Regions from separate parts of the Homo sapiens genome. Here region 2 is linked to region 1. A link means that fine-mapping ties the variant in region 1 to the expression of a gene that starts in the linked region. Tissue or cell type: whole blood. Region 1 holds a variant in brackets; the other region holds the start of a gene. All regions are shown on one strand. Distances are from middle to middle.

Evidence for each region. PIP is the estimated chance that this variant, and not a neighbour inherited with it, causes the effect.
Region 2: SENP7 starts here. The variant in region 1 is fine-mapped to the expression of SENP7 in whole blood (INTERVAL, PIP 0.98).

The regions. Positions count from the first base shown.
Region 1 is chr3:101,762,160-101,764,848 of GRCh38, forward strand. It overlaps CEP97 (centrosomal protein 97), which reads left to right. Exons shown (of 11, transcript NM_024548.4): 10 at 326-401; 11 at 2,688-2,689. Among named protein-coding and RNA genes, the nearest start is that of NXPE3, 16 kb to the right of the region's middle. The variant A/G (reference allele first, on the strand shown) is at 1,580.
Region 2 is chr3:101,512,135-101,514,823 of GRCh38, forward strand. It overlaps SENP7 (SUMO specific peptidase 7), which reads right to left and starts at 1,078. Exons shown (of 24, transcript NM_020654.5): 1 at 957-1,078. The coding sequence starts at 996.

The DNA.
Region 1 (2,689 bases):
CCATTTAACATTTTATTTTATTTCTTATTACTGGAAATACTTTGTAGAACTAATACCTGTATTTCAGTCATATCTCCTTTGGCTTCTACTTTGAGTCACAGTTCAAAATTAAGGTTTATGATGTCACTTATAAAACTGTTCCATTTTGATTCTGAGGTTAAAAAAATAAAAATAAAATAAGGTTTTAATTTAGATATTCTAAAAGTGGGAAAGACAACTATTAGATTATTAATCTCTTTACAATGCATGTGTTTATGAGTTGTAACAGGAAGTCTGAGTCAAAGCACCCTTCCTTATGTCAATAATGTGTTTTGAATTATTGTAGATTACGAAAAGAAAGAGATGAAGAACGTATTAAAAAATTTGTACAAGAAGAAGCTTTCAGATTCCTTTGGAACCAGGTAAACTCCCTCCTGCTGATTTACCTCATATATGATCAAATACAGATTCTATATTCATTGAGATAATCATAGAGTACTCAGGTGTATTAAGCACTCTTGTTCAAGGTTAAGGGTATGGCTTGTGTTCTTCGCCACTAACTGTGAACTAGGACAGTGAATTTTCTTGCATTTTATTTAATCTGAAGAAAAATATTCTGACAATTTTGACAAGAAAAACAAAATAGTATAAAGCAGGAGGAAAGTGGCTTAACTGAAGGCTGTTAGAGCTTTCCAATAGATACAACAACCCCAATTTGAAATTTCATGTAGCTATCGATCTGTCTTTTGGGAATATTTGAATGAATTGTGATTAAGATGGTATATGACTACAATATGCATGTCCTAAAAAGTATTCATAACTGTATAGGAGAGTATTTGAATCCTATAATAGCACACTTTAGGGACAGTTTAGGCAGTTGGTTTTACTAGCATTGTATCACATCAAATACTTCTTGATGATAATTTCTTGAAAATATTTTAATAAAATTTTCATTTCTTCTTTTTTATAGAAATGGGGTCTTGCCATATTGCCCAGGCCGGTCTCAAACTTCTGGGCTCAAGCAGTCTTCCCTCCTCAGCCTCCCAAAGTGAGCCACATCACCTGGCCAAATTTGTTATAATAGGATTTGACCTATAAAATGAAAAAATAATTATTGATTTGTAAAGTTTTGTAGTTACCAACAATAGAGGAATGGTTAAATTATAGAATAATAATACTGTGGAATACCATGGAATAGTTAAAAAAAATAAGGTAATGGTATTCACCAACATGGAAAGATCTCCAAAATAATACTGTTTAGTAAAAAAAAAAAACAGCACTAGCGCATTACAGCCTTGAACTCCTCAAGTGATCCTTCTGCTGCAACCTCCCAAGCAGCTGGGACTACAGGCACACACCAGTGTGCTCAGCTTCCCTGTATATTTGAAAATACGACCTAGAAAAAAGTCTGGAAGGATATGCATCAAGTTGCTGTCAGTAATTACCTTGGGCGGGGGGTCAAAGGGAAACTAAAAACTGTACATACTGCTTTCTTGTTTGCAGTTTTTACAGTAAAATTTTGGAATTTTTGTTATACTTTAGAAATTAGGGGTCATATTATCAAGAATTTGGTATGTTTTTAGGTATTTTAGAAAGTTGC[A/G]TATACTATATTGTTAGCTAATACTTAAAAACTGTAATCTCTACCTGGGTATCTAAAATGAGACTTATTTTACAAGATCTACTTATTTCAAGGGCTCTAACCTGTCTTATTGAATAGATCTCATTATATCTTGAATACATTATTGACCCCTTATTCAGCTAGGCATGTGCTGTTGCGCATTATTGACCCCTTAGTCAGCTAGACATGTACTGTTGTGCTTCTTGCTGTTTTTCTTGTAGAAGCAAGAGAATTGCTTTGGCCCATTCCCACTCCTGGTGAGGGCCTTTTGTTACCAGGGACATGTACCATTTGTGCCAGTCTGGTTTTAGGCTTGGGATGCTATGGAAAAGATAAAGGGAGTCAGCAGTTTCTAGCTCCAGTTCTGCCATTTGCCAGCTTCATGACTGCTGGAAAAAAGAGCTCAAAGGAAAATTGTAAAATAGACAGGTGGGGTGTGGTGGCTTGTGCCCGTAATCCCAGCACTTGGGAGGCCAAGGCAGAAGGATTGCTTGAGCCCAGGAGTTCAAGACCATCCTGGGCAACAAAGCGAGACCTCATCTCTACAGAAAAAATTTTAAAAATTAGCCAGATGGACGGACACGGTGGCTCACGCCTGTAATCCTAGCACTTTGGGAGGCCAAGGTGGGCGGATCACCTGACGTCAGGAGTTTGAGACCAGCCTGACCAACATGGGGAAACCCTGTCTCTACTAAAAATAGAAAATTAGCCAGGTGTGATGGTGGGTGCCTGTAATCCCAGCTACTTGGGAAGCTGAGGCAGGAGAATTGCTTGAACCTGGGAGGTGGAGGTTGCGGTAAGCCGAGATTGTGCCATTGCACTCCAGCCTGGGTAACAAGAGCGAAACTCCATCTCAAAAAAAAAAAAAAAAATTAGGCAGACATGGTGGTGGGCACCTGGAGTCCTAGCTGGTTAGGAGGCAGAGGTGGGGTGGGAGGATCACTTGAGCCCAGGAGGTTGATGCTGCAGTGAGCCATGATTGTGCTGCTGCACTCCAGCCTGGGTGACAGAGCGAGACCCTGTCTCAAAAACAAACAAACAAAAACAACACTTTTTATTTTATAATACAACTGTATTCTCTGGTTTATAGGT
Region 2 (2,689 bases), 250 kb before region 1:
GTTAACTGTCTCTGCAGAAACCAACGGTACCATCAGAAACAGAAAAATGAAATGAAATAATTGATTCATTGGGCGTTCGTTTGTGTACTGGACTGTAAGCATATGAGTCCTCGTCCTCTCCTCCTACCATCCATAGGACTTAACACAAGGACTTGAGGACCCCCTAATGGATGAAATGTTTGATAAAAACTTCTCAACTGGGAGGAGCTCTACCTCACGTTTTTATAACTCCACTTTCTTGTTTCCAAGACGTTGTACACAAAACTGAAGATAGTCATTTAAAACAAAGTAACGTCCAAAACAAAAAATATGCTGAAAATAAAAACACAACGAAAGCACGGCTTCAAATCCTTTGTTTGACTTTCCAATCACTTTTGGAAGACGCAGGGTAGGCTGGAAAAGAAAAAGGCTATTAGGCGGGCCTGTTCAGCAGAACGAGACCCGGAGAGGCATTGTATCAAAGAAAAGGAGTCTCCGGTCGCAAGCCCCACCTTTCCTCCCCAGCAGCAGCTACCTGCTGAGGGAAAGAGGAGGGAGAGGGGAAGGGACGCAAAGTCGAGAATCAAAGGAAGAGAGGAAAGTGGGGTCAGGCGCTGAGAAGCCGAAATGAAATTGGAACATTGGTGGAATTACGAGGAAGGCGTGGCAGAGAGTGACAAGCCAACCGGGAAGATCCATGGGCCGATGAGACGCAAGGAGGGTGTTCGCGGGAGGAGGGAAAAAATAAAAGGGGTTTTGAGGTGAAGAGCGCCCGAGGCTTCGATGACAGCTCGGACCGGGTCTTCGACTCCAGGGGCGGGGGCGACCCGGGAGCCTTCCATTGTGCGCGCCCCTTCCTCTCCCCGCCCCCGCCCTCGCCCCCGCGGCTTCGGGCCGCAACCCCAGCTGCCGCCTGCGCCTCCCGTTTCCCCCGGGTAGGAGACAATATGTTCAGCCCTTCTCTGACCCTTTCTCACCGGATGAAGATGGCCGTCGCCCGAGCTTTCTCTTGTCCATCTTCTCCCGCTGCTGAAATTTCAGTTGCAGGCGCTGTCACCTCAGGACCCCTCCGGCTTGGAGAGGGAGGGGGAGGGGAAAGGAAAAAAAAAAAAAAAAAAAAAAAAAAAAAAAAGCCCGCAAAGTGCGAAGCGCGCTTGCGCAAGAGCCGTCGCCTGCCCTTCGACCGGAAATCAGCCGCCCCTCCCACCTTCGACCGGAAATCACTTCCTGGGACTTTTCACTGTGGGCTGCCTCTTCCAGCGTTTTTTTGGTGGCGTTTATTTCATGATCTGAGCCCCTCTGGGGAGGTGAACCACCTGGGTGCTCGATTTTAGCTTTGTTGACTTTGAAGATTAGATTGACAAAAATTAAAAGGGAAAAACAGGAACTCCTCCGGTTCACTGGATCTCGCGAGGTGGCCAAACAACTATGAAAACAAAACGTTAGCGTTTGCAGTATTACATCCCTCACAGCCTCTCTTACATATTTGCCCCCAACGCCTTTCCTCGAACTCAGAAACCAAAAGATTTTAAGATGGCAAAATCACCTAATAATAGCCTAGCTATTAGTTTAGCATTTGCTGTGGAAATATGTCAGCAGACGAGGAAAAATGTCTTAGGATTCCTTTTTAAAATTCGAACTTGTGATTTTTAAAGTTCCTTAAAAGAAAAGCTAGAACTTAATTTTTCAATAACTGAAATGCTGATATGACAGAAAGTGGGTGGCTATAAACTTGGAATTTGTTCAATTAACATTTACCACGATACTTAAGGGACTAATCCAGTCCTCAATGAACTCAAGGTCTGGTACTATTAGCCTGATTATCCCTAATGGTGCATATCTGAATAATTTTTAAATGCACGTGTAAGCTTTCATGACGATTTAATCACAAGTTTAACAAAATTCAGCACAGTGCTCTAAGCAGGGAAAATGTTTCTGGCATGTTCAAAGCCCGAAGGGACTCTGGAAGTAGGGTTTGATTCCCAAGCTGGCCCCTTTATACCCCTAACGCCTATCCCTCCAACCCCCATCTCCCATCCTAACGGAGTCAATAAAGGGATCGGCCCAACTCGTCCACTAGAGCAGTCCCCTTCATCGTGAGTTAAGCCTTCTTAATTATAATGTGGTCAGTCCCCAGGTAGAGGTAAGGCCCCAGGTGTTGTGGGGTGTTGGGCCTGGGGAAGTGTTCTACATGGCAGGAATGACTGCAAAGCAGAAATACTTTAAGTCTTGCTGGGATTGAAGTTTACTGTAAGGATTTCGTTTTATTTGGTTAATTTCTGTTTAACAAAAACATTGCTTTCTGAAAAATAATTGAATTTTCAGTTTCCTCACAAATTAACTTTTTTTTTTTTTTGAGACGGAGTCTCGCTCTGTCGCCCAGGCTGGAGTGCAGTGGCACAATCTCGGCTCGCTGCAAGCTTCACCTCCTGGGTTCACGCCATTCTCCTGCCTCAGCCTCCCGAGTAGCTGAGACTACAGGCGCCCGCCACCACGCCCGGCTAATTTTTTGTATTTTTTAGTAGAGATGGGGTTTCACCATGTTAGCCAGCATGGTCTCGATCTCCTGACCTCGTGATCCGCCCGCCTCAGCCTCCCAGAGTGCTGGGATTACAGGCGTGAGCCACTGCGCCTGGCCCAAATTAACTTTTTTAACTAAAGAACTTAACTGATTCTAAAGTCAAGCTGGGCCGGACACAGTGGCTCGCGT